3 linked regions of the Homo sapiens genome follow. The protein of the gene in region 3 interacts with the protein of the main gene of each other region in a pairwise test. Each region holds a gene or a part of one and is shown on either strand. Other genes may lie near its edges. The genes, in order: AKR1B10, FGF14 and ACACA.

Region 1 (7,113 bases), on a different chromosome or scaffold from region 3:
GATGCTGATGTGAATAATCACCATGGCTACCATGTACAGAAGGACACCACTCCAATGAGGGTCTCAAGACTGATCATCAGAGCCTCTCCATCTGGGAGACAGGCAGGAGGACCTGGAAGCTTGGGTCCTTTCCCCGGGCTCTGAAGCCTCAGCATTTTGCAAAGCCTGGTTCACCCTTGGGTGGCTGAACTGGAAATATTCCCAGAGGGTCAAGCATGTCGCCCTTGGTGTTGTTGTTGTTGTTTAATTCCCATTTTTTCCCACTGCCATCCCATTTGTGTGTACCAAACGTGTTACCTTACACACATTTTTCTTTCCAGTAACTTATGGACCCATACCAACATTTACCAATTATAAAATAATGTTTTTAAGATTATCAAGAGAAAGACCCACCACTTGGAAGCCTCACCAAGGTCTATCCGGAGAGCCCAGGGGGCTGTAGGCCGTAACGGTGATGCCCTTGGAGTGGCAGTACTGGATCAGTTTCTCCTGTGTGAGGTATGGGTGACACTCAACCTGCAACAGCAAACAATCCTCATCACGGGGAAAGCCGGCTCTGTTTTGCATTGTTCCTAGGGAGTTCTACACACAAAAAAAGTCCACCAAGCAAAGGCCAAACACCTGCCCACTGAGATACTTGCTAAATCACCCGTGAGATCAGCCTCACACCTCCCCAAAGTGTCCTGATCACTGACCCCTGAGATGAGACTCAGGGCATAGCATTGAACATTCCTCCCGCAATGTTTAAGAAGTAATAGGGCAGGACCCTTACCCTTAAACTGAATAGAATTTACCTGGTTAGTCACTGGTTTATATTTCAGTCCAGGTTTGTTCAAGAGCTTCTCGATCTGGAAGTGGCTGAAATTGGAGACCCCAAGGGCTTTCACCAGCCCCTCATCCACCAGCTCCTCCATGGCCTATCATAGAAAGGAATACCTTATGGGCAGCTCTAGAGGGACTACAGGGACCCTGGCTTGCCTTAGTCCTCCCTGGGGCAGAAATTGCTAAAGGATCCACCGTAACAGGGTTAGCCGAAGCATTCACAGGAAATTTTAGTCCAGGGCCTGGGTGCCCATCAGTGACTGGTTCCAGCCCTACTGCCCCTCCCCAGCGCAAGAAAAACTAGGAGTAACAGGTAAAGATTTTATGTTCTTGCCACTCTCACCTTACACGTGAAGAAACACATAAAAAATTAAACTTCCTGTACACAGGGGAAATATGAAAGTTTTGTAATGCAAAAAAATAAAAAGTAAATAAAAATCAACATTTGTAAGCTTATGAGATGATTTAATTTTTAATGAATCCAAATGATAGCAGGGAGCTGCTGTTGTGTGTGTGCATTGCACACCCAAACCTGGGCAAGCTGTGTTAGTCAGGAAGAGGCTGCAGCATACGGAGAAGCCTCACTTGTGGGTCCTGAGTCCCTCTCTCCCACACTAAGCATGCTTTGGTTTGCAGGAAGGTCATGCATTCAGATTACACCCTGATAGGGGCACCCGGCCATGGAGTTGTGTGGGACTGAAGCCTGACCCACTGTTTGCATATCCAGCCATGCTTCCTGGTACAGAAACTGCATGGACACGCAAGGAAGGGAATCTTTGTATAATTTTTAGCCTATATTGGGCATTTTCCAAACTTGCCCAAAGATACCATACATGTTAGCAGCAGCCTCCAGTGCAATATGTATTTAGTAGCCATCTATTACATGTTCCAGATCCTGCCCAGAAGTTGTCAGGATGTAAATGTATACAATGTGCTCCCTTTTTCTGGGATTCTTATAGTCCAATTAAAGTGCTAGAGTTCCCTTCTATGGAGCCATCAATCATGACACTGAGGCTGCCTCAGATAACATCACAGCGGCATAGACAGAGTCAGAAAGGGCAGAGAAAGAAGAGATACATACAGCCCGCAGTTGTCAGGGGAGTCCTTCAGGTAGAGTATAAGCTGGGCCTCAAAAGAAAAAAAAAAAAAAAAAAAAAAAGACAGAAAAGAGGGAAAAAACATGAGCATATGACACAGGAAGGCAGGAGCAAAGCTCAGAGGCAGGGATAAGCACGACATGTTCAGGGAACACTTTATCCAGCCCTTCTCAACTTTGGCTGCAATTTGGAATCACCAGGGAGCTTTAAAAAATACTGGCTGGATGCAGTGGCTCATGACTGTAATCTCAGCACTTTGGGAGGTGACAGGAGGATTGGAACAGGGGTTTTGGGCCTAGGTTTGAGTAACCTAGGGTAAGTTTTTTAACTCTTGTAGGCCTTAGCTTTCTCTTCTTAAAAAAAGTCTTATAATACCTACTAATAATATATATGTTTCTGATATATATTACCAGAGGCTGAGACAGGAGGATTGCTTGAGGCCAGGTGTTGGAGACCATCCTGGGCAACATAGCAAGACCCTGTCTCTACAAAAAGAAATTTTTTTAATTAGCTGGATGTGGCGGCATGTGCCTTTGATTCCAGCTACTTGGGAGGATTGCTTCAGCCCAGGAGTCCGAGGCTGCACTAAACTATGATGATGCCATTGTACTCCAGCCTGGGCAACAGAGAGAGACTCTCTCTAAATTAAAAAAAAAAATTACCAGTGCCTGGATTTCACCCCCCAGAGTTTCTTACAGATTTTCTCTGAGTTGTAGCCTAGACGTTGGGATTTTTAAACTCCTCAGGTGATTCTAATGCATAGCCACGTTGAGAACCACTAGGATATATGATGTTATCCAAATTGGGCAGTAGAATTTAGAAGCTGTGAAATCATTAGGTTTCCCAAAATTTCAGATGGGGCAATTAGATAATTTAAAAGTTTTTGTGCACATAGGTCAGGTTAGTTTTCCTGTATTAGAACTTGACTTCTTTATACATTTTTCCTCCTCTCTGCTTCAATGTGGTCAGTGAGGTTTCTACTGAACTGGTTGTGGGTCTACATAAACATCCAACGCTTACATATTCAAGCCTGCTCATTTCAAATCAGAGCCTCTGATCTTGATCACTGCTATCTTTTCATGCCTTTCAAATGTTTTATTTAGCAGTCGTTCTTGTATTCATTCAAAAAACAGCACTGCGAGAAGCAGGCTACATTGACATACTTGCCATACTTCATGGCATCATAAGAGTTAAGATAAAAAAATCTTATCATATGTAATGCAAATAGCCAGGTGTGGTGGCTCACACCTGTAATCTGAGCACTTTGGGAGGCCAAGACAGGTGGATCCCTTGAGGTCAGGACTTCGAGACCAGACTGGCCAACATGGTGAAACCCCATCTCTACTAAAAATACAAAAATTAGCCAGGCGTGGTGGCATGCACCTCTAGTCCCAGCGACTCAGGAGGCTGAGGCAGGAGAATGGCTTTTACTTGGTAGAGGGACGTTGCAGTGAGCCAAGATTGTGCCACTGCACTCCAGCCTGGGTGACAGAGTGAGAGTGTCTAAGACAATAAAAACAACAAAAAGCTGTGCTTGTGGATTAATGCTTTTGAACAAACAATACACAGAAAAAGCTACATTTCATTGAATCATGTCAATTATAAGCATTTCAGAAAGTTGAAACATAATATATTTTTGCTTGTAAAACACAATACAAACTCGCAACTACATGCACACCTACACAGACAGCTACCAAAATAACACGATTAACTCTTGGAGTCATAAGCCACTGTTCATTTATAACTTATTCCTCCACTTCATTCTCTACTAGCATTTGCAAAAGGGTATAAATAATAAAAAATGACCAGAGAAAATGTTCATCCCTTCATTCATTTTGAATGTGAATGACGTGAAACAGGTCATGGTTAGATCTGAGAAGCAGAGCACTCAGGCTCCCTGATTTCTGGATGTGTCTTCACTGCCTGCCAAGCACCATGCTGATGGCTTTGGTGGTTGGACTTGTGATTCAGATGAGTCTGGGTCTAATCCCAGCTCTGCCACACACATTGTGACAAGACCTGGGCAAGTCATCAAACAATCTAGGTTTCAAATGTCATTATTTATAAATGGGGATGTTAACCCTGTCTCCTAGGGTTAAATGGGCTTTATGACTAATGTTCCTGGCATGTAAACCATCTTAATCTTTATCACACACTGGAAGATATATATTGGTAGTATGTATTATACAACTTCTTTTTAAGAAGAGAAAACTGAGCCCTACATGAGTTACAAAACTGACCCTAGGTTACTCAGCTGCTATGAGCACACCCAGGCCCAAACCTCCTGTTCCAAATGCCTCGCCCTGGTTTGAGAACAGCATGTGTATTCCCCAAAGTGGGGTACATTGTATTTCCAGTCTTATTTGAAGACTATTAGCCTTGAAATATAAATAGTATCAGATGTACCCAAAAGCCAAAGGTGATGAGGAAGATATTAGAAGAGCTAGAAAATCACAATGATGAAATTAGAAAGCATCAGGCACATGGCCTCATTCATATCCATGCGAATCTCATGGATAACTGAAGATTTCTCTCCCAGCACACTTAGAGGAAGCTGGGAACCTACCTCCCAGGCATCCAAGAACGTTGCTTTTCCACCGATGGCATTACCTTTATCATCTTTGGGGAAAAGGTCATCCCCAGACTGTGAACACAGAATGAAAAGTTTACTGGAATCTGCATCAGGACACTTGGTTCTGTTCAACAAGGTTTCAGGATCCTGACTCTTGCTAAATACCACATCTGCATACCACTTTTTCAAGTTCTGGAGTACATACTTTAGGAATGTGAGTTTAATTAAAATCTCTGTATCTACTGTAGCATACTAATATTTTAGAAACGACTGGCTTGACTTTAAGATTTGCTGCTAGTACATTCCAGAAGTTCATTATCACCATGGACATTAACCTCATACACCTAGATCCCATATACAACCAAGGGCAAACTTTCATTTCAATATTACTGGATAAGGATTAGATATCCAAGCTGTGGTTTTCTGGAGAAGATATTGGCCAACTTCTATCCTTGCAGCCTCTAGAAGAGGCGTGGAATTAGGGGTGGCAGGCCATCATCACTCCAGTTGGTCAGGAGGGGAGAGAGCTGGAAATTTGTCTCTCCCACCCCTCAGGAGCAGGTAAGAGCAGAGCCCCAGGCAATGGGTGCCTGGATCACTACTGGCTTCCTTCCAGCATCACCATACTTGGGCTTTTCTCCAAGATGCCACTCCCAGGTGTACTTTGCTTAATAAGATAATTATGCCCTGGAATATAGTTATGCAAGAGTAACCCAAGAGATTTCCTGGGAGGGCAACCCTGGGGCGTGGAATCAAGACAAAGGTGATATGGCAGTTGCAACTTGTCTGGGCTGCCAGAAATCATGTCTTCTCTCAGACATAACTGCAAGAAAACCCAGGCATGTGGCCACCTCAGCAGCACACATGGCCTCAACCTCCCTTCCAGGCCAGTGTGTTTCTTCTCCAAGGTCTCTTCCTGACCACCTGCCATTCCCAATTATGAAATGCAAGGCCTCCTGCCCCAGTCCACACCACCCCACAGCCCTGGTGCAGCTACTATTTTCTGGCACCTGCTCAGAAACTAGAGGCTGAGAAAGAGAGTGTCTTAAACCTTGAATCCCTGTGGCCAGTGAATAAGATAGACGTCCAGATAGCTCAGCTTCAGGTCCTTGAGGGTCTTCTCAAAGGCTTTCCTCACAAGGGGTCTCTCAAAGAAAGTGGGCCACAACTGCAAAGAGTGTAGCAATGAGCTATTAATACTGGGAAAAGGAAGGGCCACATTGTACTCATTGTCCCTGCTTTTTGATTTGCATCCTCATCTAACCCACCACAAGCCATTTGTAACAAAGCTGATTAAGATCCACGACACAGTGTGGAACATCACCAGGGCTCAGCACCTCAATGACATGTCTTAAGTGTTAAAAGCAATTGACTTTTTCAACTGTCCTAGTACTCTATACGTGTCTCAGATCATTGAAGTAAATGTGGCCACAGATTTGAAATTTGTTTACCTGTCTCAGTCTCTTCCTCAGCTGTAGGCTCTCTGAGAGCAGGAATTGTGTGTAGCTTTTAAATGTCAAGCATTCTTAGGCCTTTGGGAGCAGATGGTCCTTTATCTGACCTATCTGATAGGTCCCTTATCAAGCCTATAAGGCCCCAAGTGATAATTTTACAAAGGCTTTATCCAGACTTGGCTGCTACACAGTGAGGTCTATTTGTCCTACCAGATGTATGCATTTTCCAAGTACCTAGAACTAGTGTTATTTTTTTTCAGCAAGTTATGTATAATATAGATCCAGTGATTCTCAGCCCTCTCACACCCAACATCTTCTTCTTTTTTATAACATTGTATCCCTCACCTTTTACTAGAATGAATAAAGAAATTCATATGTGACAATAGAAAAATGCCCCTACCATTTTCTAAAATTCCCCCTGGCTGAGAGTCTCAGGGGCACAGTCACTGAGATCACAGTGCTGAAAGGGAGGCTTCAGATCAAGACCCGCCTGCACCCTTGGCCTCTGATTGCCTCTGGGCAGATGGTAGATCCCTCTGATGGGGAACAGGGAGGCCCAGGGCAGTGCAGGGTTCCATGGAACCAAGCCCACTATGGGAAAACCAACCTACAGGCAGGTGGGGCAGCCACGACATGTTCAAATATCAATAATGGCTTGGAGTATGGATAGTGTTGTATTCACGGATGTTATCAAGGCAGAGATGAAAAGGGGTACATGTAGAAAAGGCTGACAGAGTTCTTGCTGCCAACCCGACCCAGATACTTCTGCCTGCCTTGAAGTGAAGGCCTCCCACCAAATGCACCATTGCACCTTGCTGACGATGAACAGGTCCTCCCGCTTCACAGCCTTCTCTTGGATCTTCTCTTGGATGGCTTCCCCCACTTCATGTTCATTCTGATAGACATAGGCACAGTCAATGTGCCGATATCCTGCATCAATGGCCACCTTCACTGCTTCTTTCACTTTGCCAAGAGGAGACTGAAAGGCAAAAGAAAAGCTCATCACATATGTGTTTTTTTTAAGAGATGGGGCCCTGCCGTGTTGCCCAGGCTGGCCTCACACTCCCAGGTTCAAGCAACCCTCCCACCTCCCGAGTAGCTGGAATTACACCACTCTCAGCAACCATCATATTCTCTTATCCCCAGGCCACCTTCAACAGGCTGCCCC
Region 2 (7,113 bases), on a different chromosome or scaffold from region 3:
GTCTTTATAGCTGAAAATAATATAACAATTATTGAATCTTTACAATCTGTTAGGCTCTGTAGCAGGTATTATATATACATACAGCAGTGAATAGAAGAGTTGAAGTTCCTGCCATCATGGAGCTCACAAACATGGGGTAGAGAGTCATTGCCTATGGAAAGGAACAAATTAATAAGAAATAATAAAATTCAAAGTCCTATAAAGCATGAAGAGAGCTGGGATAAAGAATTATGGAGGAGAGAGGGGTGGGGAGAGGGATCTAATTAGATAAAGTAGTCAGGGTGGGCAACACTGGGATCCACAGGTTGAGAGATGACAGGTAAGAAGGATGCAGAGATTTTAAGAGCAGGTAGAAAAAGCAATGTGTGTGCAGAGACCTTGAGGTGGAAAAAATATTGTCCCATTGGGAGAAAAAAAAGAGGCATAGAAATTTTAAGCACATTGTCAAGTAGAATATAGTGTGATATGCTTGAAAACAGAATAAAGAATAGCTCCACATTTTGTGTTTTGGGGAAGGGTAATACACATTTTTGAAATGTAGGGTTTTAAAAAATCCTTTATTAAGTAGTAATTTATTTAATGTAAAGATTATTGAGTTGGAGCCCTACACCCACACTCTTTCCTATCTCCATCACCCCTACCCCTATAGAAGAGTGATGTTTATACCAGTTGACTTACTCTTGTGAAGGACAGAAATTTGCAAGATGGCTATTAATGGTGTGGTAGGCAGCATGACTGCAACCCACCTTTCCAGATTCAGCTCCATCTACCCTCCACCGACCTCCACAGATTTCAAACACAATACAATGCCACACACCCCGCAAATTAGTCATATGCTTTCAAATCCTTATCCTTTTGTTTGTGCTTTACTGTGTGTCTAGCATCTTCTCCTCACTTCTACATTCACCTGTTGAAATTATGAAATTATTCTCATTTTGAAAAGCTGAGAGAAAATGCCATCTCCTCTGAGAAGCCTTCATTTATTGGATACAATTAAAAATAATTCTCCTGTGGTATTTCATACGTCACTGTTGTTGTTTATATATACCTGATAATAATTAATTAAGTATACATATTCAGCTGATTGTAGGGAAGAAGCAAAGTCTGTGTTTTCTGCATCTTCATAGGCTCTCAAATCTTGAGAGTGTTTGCCATACACTGGGTTCTCCTCATTGCCCTTGGATTGGAGTGAAATAAGGAAGGTTAATAGGCCCAAGCTAAAAAAGAAAGTATCCTTGAACCAGAGTGATCTAACTAGATAATTTTAGACATAAAAATACTTTTCAAATTTTATACCTTTTTTACTTTCCCTAAATAAATATAATTATATCTTTTTTTAAGAGAATTAGAGGGATTACATATTTGTGGGTTATTTATAAGAATGCAAGAACATAAACAACCTCATTTTAAAGCTTAACTAATATATGAACAAAGATATTTACATATATTGATTTAGCCAAAGAAAGGGGAATTTACAAGGAAATCAACAGTTTGCAAATAGTTTTATTATTTGGAATCTTAACAAAAATGAAAACTAAAGTAGCCACTGACTACAATGGTGTATAATGAACATTGTATCCCCAAAAGTGTTATGTTTTTATTATGAATTTTTCAATCAAACAAGAACCATAATTGTTCACAGGATAATAACCTTTCTAAATCTTTGGCATGGCTGCTAATGCAGTTGTTTCTTGAGATTTACTTTTTTGGGGCTGTGATCATGAGAGCTATGGTATTATGTGCCATGTATGCTTAATCAGCAGGTGCCTGGGCTTCTTACTAACATTTTAACTAAAATAAATTACAGTATGTATAAGGAATGGAAAGTGAGGTACTTAAAATGTGTTTTCAAGTTAATGCATAATATAAAAAGCAGAAATGCATGTACACCTATAGAAATAAACTGCTTTGCTCCAGTGTGATAGTGAAATCCATCAGTTATTCTAAGAAAAGTGTCCTTCCTTCTTACAAGGTGCTATGTAAGGAAACAAGTGTCTACCGTCTCAGAAAATAATCCACAGCAAATAGTCATCAAAAAAAAAAAAAAACACTGTTTTTGTGCGCTACTGTTTTAGTGTCATTACCATGTGCTCATACAAAGACCACATGCTTGTTTGTTTTGGCTGTTTTGGCTAAACTAAAACAAGGGAACATTTTTCTTCAAAGCACTTTTTATTTTTTGGAAGATATTTTCTCTTTGGTGTTGGTTTTCTAAGGCCATACCCATTGGAGTCTTACTACATATTAATACCTGTTGCTAACTTTTTGATAATTATAATTTTATTATTTGTTAGTTGTATTAAGGTTAGATCAAATTATGGTCTTCTAAATTAAAATGTTGAGTTTTGTTTTGTTTTGTTTTTAACAAGGGACATACTATAAATGCAATTTCTAAGCAGGGAATCTTATGAGAATATTACCAGATTGGTCAATGAAATAATGTTAGAGACAAAAAAGGCATTCATTGTTTATGCATTTTCCTCCTGTGGCTTAATTGTTATGATTTCACAGTCCATATTTGCTATAGGTTTCTGAAAATGTTTAATACCTCAGTAGTTCAATAAGTAAAGTGTAAAATAGTGTAACAGATTAGGTATAATGTAATTAAACATAAAGAAGATGGTTTGCTTTGGGTTTAGTTATATCCATAGATTGAGTTGAGTTTACATATATTAATAATCTATGGCCAACTGTCTGGTGAAGAAATCCTGTGACCTTTCCTAACAAGATTTCAGATACACAAAACCTTCTGTCCCAAAGTTACCGTAATCAATTACGGGCTTCACTTCACATTTTGAATTTGAATACTTTTACATTTAGCCCCAAACTTGTGATTTTTGTTAGTAATTCCATTCTCTATGATGTTACTGTGAGAACAAGTATTTTCAAACCCAACAAGAACCTCCCTTCTCTTTGGTGTAAAGTTACGTCTTCTAAATTTTATTTATTTAAATTTTTTTAAATGGTAGAAATTTAAAAGGAAAGGTTTCTAAATATGATTTATCCACTTAGTTATGGAATTCTATATTTTTCTTAGATATAATTTATATTAATGTCTCCCCAAATGTTGAGAAACTTTAGCCAAAGAGGACTATGATATTTAGATAATACAAATGTTATATAATATTTCAAATATTGTTTTAGCACCCAACAACTAAAACACACACACACACACACACACACACACACACACACACACACACACACACACACACGAATCCAAATCTCTAAGAGACCATTTCAGAGACGTCAATGCAATTTAAAGCCAGTTACAGTGTTTGCATTAGAAAACAACTAATTTCATAGTTTTGGTCTATAATGGTCCAGCATTCAATTTAAGAAACTCAGATCACATGAAAATGTCACCATTTGCTGTTTACTGGGGTGACAGTATACCAGTAGGCATGCGTAGAAATGCAGACACAGTGTCTACACCATTTTATGATAGGTACTACTTTGTCATTCAGAAAAATGTCTCCTTTCATAAAATTAAATTTTGTAATTTATTTTGTGGAATGTATGTTTCTCCCTATGATTTTATGGTTTTTGATATTGGGATTGATAGGAACCCATACGGCATCACCATAGGGAAGGGCCACTTCAAAGTCATTGTCTCACCAGTGCCTGGCATACAGCTAACACTTCAGAAGTATTTGTTGAGTGAATGAAACATACCACATTTGTCAGGACATATATGCAGCAGAAGCATAGAATACAATTGAGATAAATGAACGCATAGCAATGGCTATAATTGGATAATTATTATTATTATTATTTTGGTCTGATTTACTTTTTATTTTATTTATTTTTTTATACTTTATGTTTTAGGGTACATGTGCACAAAGCGCAGGTTTGTTACATATGTATACATGTGCCGTGTTGGTGTGCTGCACCCAGTAACTCGTCATTTAACATTAGGTATATCTCCTAATGCTATCCCTCCCCCCTACCCCCACCCCACAACAGGCCCTCGTGTGTGATGTTCCCCTTCCTGTGTCCATGTGTTCTCCTTGTTCAATTCCCACCTATGAGTGAGAACGTGCGGTGTTTGGTTTTTTTGTCCTGGTGATAGTTTGCTGAGAATGATGGTTTCCAGCTTCATCCATGTCCCTACAAAGGACATTAACTCATCATTTTTTATGGCTGCATTGTATTCCATGGTGTATATGTGCCACATTTTCTTAACCCAGTCTATCATTGTTGGACATTTGGGTTGGTTCCAAGTCTTTGCTATTGTGAATAGTGCCGCAAGAAACATATGTGTGCGTGTGTCTTTACAGAAGCATGATTTATAGTCCTTTGGGTATATACCCAGTAATGGGATGGCTGGGTCAAATGGTATTTCTAGTTCTAGATCCCTGAGGAATCGCCACACTGACTTCCACAATGGTTGAACTAGTTTACAGTCCCACCAACAGTGTAAAAGTGTTCCTATTTCTCCACATCCTCTCTATCACCTGTTGTTTCCTGACTTTTTAATGATCGCCTTTCTAACTGGTGTGAGATGGTATCTCATTGTGGTTTTGATTTGCATTTCTCTGATGGCCAGTGATGATGAGCATTTTTTCACGTGTCTTTTGGCTGCATAAATGTCTTCTTTTGAGAAGTGTCTGTTCATATCCTTCACCCACTTTATGATGGGGTTGTTTGTTTTTTTCTTGCAAATTTGTCTGAGTTCATTGTAGATTCTGGATATTAGCCCTTTGTCAGATGAGTAGATTGCAAAAATTTTCTCCCATTCTGTAGGTTGCCTGTTCACTCTGATGGTGGTTTCTTTTGCTGTGCAGAAGCTCTTTAGTTTAATTAGATCCCATTTGTCAATTTTGGCTTTTGTTGCCATTGCTTTTGGTGTTTTAGACATGAAGTCCTCGCACATGCCTATGTCCTGAATGGTATTGCCTAGGTTTACTTCTAGGGTTTTTATGGTTTTAGGTCTAAAGTTTAAGTCTTTAATCCATCTTGAATTAATTTTTGTGTAAGGTGTAAGGAAGGGATCCAGTTTCAGCTTTCTACTTATGGCTAGCCAGTTTTCCCAGCACCCTTTATTAAACAGGGAATCCTTTCCCCATTTCTTGTTTTTGTCAGGTTTGTCAAAGATCAGATAGTTGTGGATATGTGGCATTATTTCTGAGGGCTCTGTTCTGTTCCATTCATCTATATCTCTGTTTTGGTACCAGTACCATGCTGTTTTGGTTACTGTAGCCTTGTAGTATAGTTTGAAGTCAGGTAGCATGATGCCTCCAGCTTTGTTCTTTTGTTTTAGGATTGACTTAGCAATGCGGGCTCTTTTTTGGTTCCACATGAACTTTAAAGTAGTTTTTTCCAATTCTGTGAAGAAAGTCATTGGTAGCTTGATGGGGATGGCATTGAATCTATAAATGACCTTGGGCAGTATGGCCATTTTCATGATATTGATTCTTCCTACCCATGAGCATGGAATGTTCTTCCATTTGTTTGTATCCTCTTTTATTTCATTGAGCAGTGGTTTGTAGTTCTCTTTGAAGAGGTCCAATAATTGGATAATTATTAATGTATTTAACAACTACCTGCATGACACTCTGTGTCTATTGAGTACTATTTAATCTTCACAACAAACCCATGTGGTAGGTACACTACATTATCCATTCATTAATACACTAAATTATCCAGTAATCGATAATACACTAATATTATCCATTCATTCATTTTACAGATGAGGAATCGGAAACAAAAATAAAAAGCTTGCATAGCTTTGAAGAGTGGGGCTGGGATTAGGAGAAGATCTGCTAACTGTTTAGCCCATCTGCCTGCCTACTATTTGCCTGCACTTACAAGGCTGAATTTGGCTGAAGAAAAATACGCAGACACATTGGTCCTACTTTAAATTCACAGTCAATAACCTCAGGGGGCCCCTTGGTACATTTCTTTTTTAAAATCCATTTTCACTTAACTGGATCATATTTCTTACCTTACTTCCCTTCAAACCTCTTATGTCTCCTCTCCCATTTCTACTCTCAGCTATATCCTTACTTCTATTTGTCTGAGAAAGTAGAAATAATAAGAAATAAATGTTCACATACTCCACAACTGCTTTTATAAGTCTATCTGCAGATCTATCCATTTACTCCTCTTTTTATTTTTTTACTGAACTTGGGGATAAACTCCTAGTGCTGTAATCTAAGTTCAAGACCTCATCAAATTTAGCATTAGACCATCTCTCCTACTCAGGGAAATCAATCCAATAATTTTCTTCTCTTCTGCATCATCCTACTGTGTTATCCCACATCCTCCTGTATTATCCTTAACAGTATTTAAATATGCTCTAATATTTAGAACATCTTAAATAATTACCCCATGTTAAAAAAGAATCCCCTCTTGGTTATGCATTTCTCTCTAGCTATTGAATTAATTGTCTGTTACTGGCAAAACTCTTTGAAAGAGAAATTGCAACTATCCTTCTCCCATTCTCTCTTGGACCCTTTCTAAACAGGTGTTTGTCCCCAGTAACAAACTGTTCTTGTCACGGTCACCCATGACCTGCAAGTGATCAAACTCAAGATTCTGTTTTCAGTTCTTATCCTACCCGTATAGTATTTGGCATTCAAATTTTCATAATAAATTTGTATTTTTTACTACAAAGTGGTAAAGTTAGCATCGAAATACTTTAAACCTACCATTTACCCAACCAGTACCCTTTATGCGATCATCTTTTTATAGTGACGATATATTTGGGTTTCTAATTGAGAGTATTAATACGTTAACTATTCCATGTGATTTGATGTTCAGCCAAACACTAATAGTACTCAGTTGGTATTCGGGTACCATTAGAAGGCAATGCTTGGTGTTTCCTTACTTGGGAAGAATATTCCTTTCATCACATGTATTTGTGTTTGGACAGAGTGGCTTGTCTCTATAAAACAGAAGAAGATGAATGGTCTTTCTGAGAATTAGTCTTTGTATTTAAATATAATAGATTTGTGATTAAGCAACGGCTGCTTTTCAGACTCCTTAATTACTATCATAGCAAATAATCATTGGCAAACTAAAATATTAGTTTGCTTAATGATAAATATCACTCAAGTTTAAGCATTATGTAGAAAGAAATAGTCATAAACTTTGGAAGGGCCGTTTATC
Region 3 (7,113 bases):
CTGGGCACGGTGGCTCACGCCTGTAATCCCAGCACTTTGGGAGGCCGAGGTGGGCGGATCACGAGGTCAGGAGATCGAGACCATCCTGGCCAACATGGTGAAACCCGTGACTACTAAAAATGCAAAAATTAGCTGGCATGGCAGCGTGTGAATGTAATCCCAGCTACTCAGGAGGCTGAGGCAGGAGAATTGCTTGAACTCGGGAGGCAGGGGTTGCAGTGAGCCGAGATCAGCCACTGCACTCCAGCCTGGTGACAGAGCTAGACTCCATCTCTAAATCAATGAGTGAATGAATGAATCAATCAATCAACTAATATCACTCTATTTTCAATTCATGAAAATACCTCTAATTAGGGAATAGCCCCAGGAACAAAGCTATAAGGTATACATGATCCAAGTGTGCTTTTCTCATAACTACAGATACTTATCCTTCACATACAGTACTTTCACTGTTGGGTTTGTACCCTGAGGCAGTTTTGTGAGGAATACAATGCTTAAAAGTATACAAGCACAACATCCAAAAAGTAAGGAGGATCCAAATAGGAAGGAATCCTACAACATAAACTCTGGCATTGGTAGCCAGAAAAAAATATAGTGTTATCCTATAAATACCTGCTGGCTGGGAAACTGACAGAGGACTGATGTGATGTTGCTAGCATACTGAGCCATTTCCTTCTTGATAGACTTCTCCACATTGGGGGGAATGCGGCCAGACACACTGGTCATAATATCTTGCAATTCTAGGAGAGGCAGGGAGGGATCTCTGAGGGTTTTCATCAATCGCTCTACCCAGTCTTTTACCTAGAAAGAAAGCATTGGTAAAATAGGACCCAAGTTAACACAATCCCCCAAATAAAAAGATATATAGTTGTCATTCTGTATACGTGGGAAATTGGTTCCAGAACCACCACTCATATATGAAAATCTGCACATACTTGAGCCCTACGGAACCCATGTATAGAAATAGTTGTGGGTTCCATATCTCATCAATACTGTAATTTTGATCCATGTTTGGCTGAAAAAATCCACATATAAGTGGACCCACACAGTTCAAACCTGTATTGTTCAAGAGTCAACTATATCTGAATTCACTATCATATACTACTTCTTTTCAATAAAAATTTATATAATTTTCAATAGATATGGGGTCTTGCTATGTTGATCAGGCTGGTCTCAAACTCCTGGCCTCAAGCGATCTTTCCATCTCAGCTTCCCAAAGTGGTGAGATTACAGGCGTGAGCCAACTATCATAGAGTACTTTGAAATTGCAACGTAAGCATCTAACATTGCCCCTATTCTCCAGTTTAAAAAGGACTAATCACGGGCGGGCACAGTGGCTCACGCCTATAATCCCAGCACTTTGGGAGGCCGAGGCGGGCAGATCACAAAGTCAGGAGTTCAAGACCAGTCTGGCCAACGTGGTGAAACCCCACCTCTACTAAAAAAAAAAAAAAAAAATTAGCCGCGCCTGGTGGCACGTGCCTACAATCCCCACTACTCAGGAGGTTGAGGCAGGAGAATCACTTGAACCCAGGAGGTGGAGGTTGCAGTCAGCTGAGTTTGTGCCATTGCACTCCAGCCTGGGCAACAGAGCAAGACTCCGTCTCGAGGAAAAAAAAAAAGGAGTAATCACAATTAAATGTGAAGTCCATGACAAGGATAAGAAACATGGATTTAAAGACCTCAAGTCCCACAACTGAAGGTGAAAGAGTTCTAGGCCAAACAGCTTTCTTTTCCTCCCTCTTAAACAATCATTATGAGACTTGGAACTATTTTGGAGAATAGGTATCCCATTTGTACATCCCTTCCCCAGGAGACGTGATACATACCTTGCTGCTAAAGAAAGGATCTGGAAGGCAGTATCCATTCATTACATTGACCAGATTATCCAGGACATAATGGAACACTCGATGGAGTTTCTCGCCTCTGAGTGCCGTGCTCTGGATCCGTGGCAGACTACCTGTGTGAAGTTCAGCCTGTCAACCCCAACAAGAGATCAAGTCATCTACTACTTTTGATCTAAGGTACAAACACACCACTGCACTTAAGAGTTATCATTCAAAATCGAGACATCATACCCAGCTACCAGGAGGGAAGTCAATAGAGGAAACATCATAAGGAAATTACAGAATCTTAGTACTACAGTAACTCTTGCAAACTCTAGTTCCATAATACTACAGGCACAAATACAAGGCATAAGATTAATAGGGGACAAAGCTAAAGAAAACACTGGCAAACCAAGCATTGAAATCACTTGCCTCTCCAAACCACCAAGTTCTTTAGCTCTTAGAGAGCAATATTCGGAGCACCTTCCTACTCACCTGCTGAACCTTGCTGGGGTTGTCCAGTTGCATTTTGGCTAGTACACAGCCAGGGTCAAGAGCTGCTCCAGGTCGCTTGACGTAATGGATACAGCCAGACTCCACAGCTGTTAAGGTCATTACCATCTTCATTACCTATAGTGAAAAATAAACTAGACTCAGATTTATCTCTCTTTACACAGATGAGTGCTTAAAAGAACTAAAATTTTTCCCTTAGCATCTAAGTTGGACCACACCTAATTTGACCAAGAAAAAATGGGAATTTACCATCATCTCCTAGGGACTATCAAGGCAAGCAATTAGAAAATCTCTCAGTACCTCACTTTAGGAATTAATAACAGTTATTGACATTTCTCCTTTCTAACTTTTACAACCATTTTGGCATAATTTGTGATTATATTTGTTTTGTACTTAGAAAGTAAGGAACAATTTAATATCCTCATACCAGTGAATCCAATCTAAGACAACCAGGCCAAAACCTAAGGATCATTCTTCACTCCTCTTTCTCCCTTACCTACCAATTACCAACCCAGCCAGACATATCTTCTAAACCTTTCTCAAAAATCTTCCTCTCTTGCCAACTCTTCGGTTTACGCCTTCTTCATTTCTGGCCCAAAGTACTTCAAAGACCCCCTAAGAGATCTCCCTACTTGCTACATACCTCCCTCAAGGTCACGAAAAGCAATCTTCCTAGACCCCAAATCTCATCATACTACTTTTCCACTTAAATCTTTCAGAGATTACCTGCTGCCTCCAGGATAGTGAAAACTTACTAGTATGGTTTATAAGATCCTTCATAACCTCACATTCAAGATCTCACATTACTTCTTTAGCACCTTTGCTTGTCCCTCCCCATTAAACCTTAGTCTATTCTCAAGCCACACCAACACATACTTGCAGTTCCCTAAATACACTGTGCTGTCTTGCTTCTGTCTTTGTACATGCTATTCCTTCAACTTTAAGCACTCTTCCCTGCCCTTCTTCACCTGCTCTATCACTATCTGTCTTTCAAAACTAAGATCAAATGTCTCTTCTTTCAGAATATCTTCCCATACAAGCTTAGCTTGATTTGGGTTAGGTGACCCTCTGCACTCTATGCTTAGCTCTCTTAAAATTAATCACATGACATTTCTTGTCTGTTTTGTGCCCCACCTCCATGTATTTTCTCTGGATAGCCAGCAGTTAGGACACCTAACATTCAACAAGTGCTATTGCCTAGTATCTATTTTTAGAACTAGAGATTCCTCATTTGCCTATGTGTTTTAAAAATCTTAAGGTTCGCACTTCTAATTAAGCCAACTGATGTTTCTTTTTCATTCTTATTTCCAATCTGTTACCTTTTTTTTTAATTTTTTAGAAATAGGGTCTTGATTTGTGACGCAGGCCACAAATTGTACCACTCCAGTACAGTGGTACAATCTCCATTCACTGCTGCCTTGAATTCCTGGGCTCAAGGGATCCTCCCGCCTTAGACACCAGAGTGGCTGGGTCTACAGGCATGTGCCACTGTACGCCGCTAATTTTTTAATTTTTCATAGAGATGGGGTCTCACCATCTTGCCCAGGCTAGTCTCGAACTCCTGGGCTCAAGCGATCTTCCTGCCTCAGCCTCCCAAAGTGGTAGGATTACAGGCACAAGCCACTGTGCCCAGCCTCCTTTCTGTAACTTTTCAGTCCTAGTCCATCCCAGCCGACCCTTTTCCTACCTTCCCCTCCCATGATCCCACAGTCCTTTCACCACCCTGACCTCAATCTCAGCATAGCACTGGCCGGCAAACACATGACCTCCATCTTCTACAATGTACTGGATTAACTTCCCAGCAGAAGGTGAGCGCATCACCGATGGGTCATTTTCCTTCTCAAACACACAGGTTTTATTGCCAATTGTGATGCGATATCTAGGAGACAAGTGGAAGTATGTAAGCTAAGAAAGCACCTCAGGATGTAAAGGAGAATGGTAGAGAATGTCAACCTTCAAAGAAAAAAAATCCTGAAAACTTTATTATACACACACACAGACATATTCACTGCATATTTGTTTACAATGTCAATTAACATAAATTTCCTTCAATAAGGATCAGATTAAATATAGTATAATCATATAATGGAATACCACATGACTATTAAAAATAACAGGTACCACCATTTAAAAAAACACACACAAAGATATTGATGACGTAATAGCTAACATTTCTTGAAGCCTAGCTATGTTGTGGCAATGTTCTACACATTTTCAACATGTTAATTTATTTCATTCTCATAACACCATAACTGGTGTTGAACATTTGTGAATTTCTTTTTTTTTTGATACGGAGTTTTGCTCTTGTTGCCCAGACTGGAGTGCAATGGCGTGATCTCGGCTCACCGCAACCTCCACCTCCCAGGTTCACGTGATTCTCCTGCCTCTGCCTCCCAAGTAGCTGGGACTACAGGCATAAGCCACCACATCTGGTTAATTTTGTATTTTTAGTAGAGACAGGGTTTCACCACATTGGCCACACCGGTCTTGAACTCCCAGCCTCAGGTGATCCACCTGCCTCGGCCTCCCAAAGTGCTGGGATTACAGGCGTGAGCCACCGCGCCCAGCCACATTTGTGAATGTATTTAAAGAAAAACAGTATGTACATGAGTGTAACTTGTATATGCATATAAAATTTCTACTCAAATATGTAAGAAACTTTTAACAATGGTTACTTATAAAAAGGGGAACTTATTTTTCATTGTCCACATACACTGGAGTGGTAGGGAGACATGTTTTTAATTATAAACACTTTAATACTCTTGATATTTTTGTTAAGTGCATGTACTATTTTTTTTTTTTTTAACTACAAATGAGTACCAAGAAAAGCCTGGGAAAATCCCAAGAGCTAGTAGCTAATAAGAGAAAAGGCTAACAGGATGACCAGCAAATGGACCTCAAACAGCCACTTACCTATCCACTTCCTCTTTCATATACGTAGTATAACTGCTGCCATCATAGGACAAGAGCAGTCCACCGTCACTCAGCCGATGTACATCTACTTCTACACATGAGCCATTCATGATCACCACATAGGAGTTGGGGGACTGTCGAGTCACCTGTAGGGAATGAGAATGAGGATCAGTGTGTCCCTTCCAGGTACAGCTCCAAATGAAATTTGAATGCTTCAAAAATACAGATAAGAAAGATCTGTCAGGAGGAAGAAAATTCATGGCACTGATGCTATTTGCATCAGTGTCTGTGGACATGGCTCAGTCCTGCTGTAAGCAAAGAGGGCAACCTTAGTTGATTTTCCCCAACTGTGGTTGTTCTCTGTCTCTCCTTTATCTCTTGGCAGTGTATGTGAAGTTGAAGAACAACAAAAAAGATTTTCATAGAACAACAAACGCTGCTTCAGGACACTGACAAAAATAATGACGGTAATTTCACTAATACCCCCATCCCTGCATTAAATCAAACTTTTTCTCCTGCCTCTCAACCTAAAGAAAGATAGCTAAAAAAGTAAGGTGCAAGCTCCAATGGGGTTCTGCATACCTTAAGTACATACTTGACTCCCTCATAGATAAGTTCAACATCTACTGTATTCAGAAGTGTATGAGCAGGAAGGACTTGACCCCTGAAAGAACGATGAGAGAGGAACTTACTACAAAGTTCTAACAGTTATAAGAGAATCTAAAACATTATTGATTGTAGCATTTCCTAGAATAACAAAAGACTAGAAACAACCTAAATACCTAAATGATCGTTTGTAAGGAATTGATCACATCAATTATGAATCTTACAATGGATTTTTTTAAATTAGGGTAAAATACACATTACATTAAATTTGCCATCTTAACCATTACAAAATGCACAGTTCTATAGTGTTGGGGATATTAACACTATTCTGCAACCAATCTGCAGGACTTTTTCAACTGGCAAAAGTGAAACTCTACACCCATTAACAACTCCCAATTTCGCCCTCCCCCCAGTTCCTGGTAACCGTCATTCTACTTTCTAGTTCTATGAGTCTGACTACTCTTCATACTTCATATAAGTAAAACCATATAGTATTTGTCTTTTTGTGACAGGCTTAATTCACTTGCCCTAATGTCCTTAAGATCCACCTATGTTTTAGCATGTGTCAGAATTTCCTTCTTCTTTAAGGCTGAATAATACTGTATTGTATGTATATGCCACATTTTGTTTATCCAGTCATCCATCAACCAACATCTGAGTTGCTCCCATCTTTTAGCTACTGTGAATAATCCTCCTATGAATGTGGCTGTGCAAGTATCTTTCAGACCCTGCTTTCAATTCTTTCAGAATACCCAGAAGTGGTATTACCAGATCATAGGGTAATTCTATTTTTAATTTTTTCAGTAATTGCAATACCATTTTTCAATAGTGGCTGCATCATTTTACATTCCCATCAAGAGTGCACAAGTGTCCCAATTTCTCTACGTACTTGCCAATACTTGCTATTTTCTGTTTTTTGACAGTGGGCATCCTAATGGGTGTGAGGTGGTATCTCATCATGGTTTTGATTTTATTTACTTAATGATTAGTGATGTTGCGCATGTTTTCACATGTGGAACAAAACATACAGACATTAAAAAGATGTGAACTAAAAAACACTTTAAAAAATATACTGTTGAGTTAAAAAAGCAAGGTAAATAACAGCTTCACAGCATGCTACCATTTGAGTTTTAAAAAACCAGGAGGTGGGAAGAAACAAATATTGCATGTTGATATGGTTCGGCTGTGTTCCCACTCAAATCTCATCTTGAACTGTAGCTCCCATAATTCTCTTGTGGTGTGGGACGGACCCAGT

The links.
Region 1: the proteins of ACACA (region 3) and AKR1B10 interact in binary tests that used the Homo sapiens proteins (3 or more experiments, as listed by UniProt).
Region 2: the proteins of ACACA (region 3) and FGF14 interact in binary tests that used the Homo sapiens proteins (3 or more experiments, as listed by UniProt).

Annotation. Positions count from the first base shown.
Region 1 is NC_000007.14:134,530,454-134,537,566, reverse strand, and holds part of AKR1B10 (aldo-keto reductase family 1 member B10), read right to left. Parts: intron 6,925-7,113; coding exon 6,757-6,924; intron 5,660-6,756; coding exon 5,543-5,659; intron 4,564-5,542; coding exon 4,486-4,563; intron 1,951-4,485; coding exon of another isoform or gene 1,852-1,950; exon of another isoform or gene 928-1,851; intron 918-927; coding exon 795-917; intron 517-794; coding exon 410-516; intron 1-409. UniProt on the Homo sapiens protein: Catalyzes the NADPH-dependent reduction of a wide variety of carbonyl-containing compounds to their corresponding alcohols. Displays strong enzymatic activity toward all-trans-retinal, 9-cis-retinal, and 13-cis-retinal.
Region 2 is NC_000013.11:101,906,940-101,914,052, reverse strand, and holds part of FGF14 (fibroblast growth factor 14), read left to right. Parts: intron 1-7,113. UniProt on the Homo sapiens protein: Probably involved in nervous system development and function.
Region 3 is NC_000017.11:37,242,759-37,249,871, forward strand, and holds part of ACACA (acetyl-CoA carboxylase 1), read right to left. Parts: intron 5,917-7,113; coding exon 5,835-5,916; intron 5,399-5,834; coding exon 5,253-5,398; intron 4,219-5,252; coding exon 4,068-4,218; intron 2,457-4,067; coding exon 2,322-2,456; intron 2,218-2,321; exon of another isoform or gene 2,043-2,217; intron 1,977-2,042; coding exon 1,830-1,976; intron 802-1,829; coding exon 613-801; intron 1-612. UniProt on the Homo sapiens protein: Cytosolic enzyme that catalyzes the carboxylation of acetyl-CoA to malonyl-CoA, the first and rate-limiting step of de novo fatty acid biosynthesis.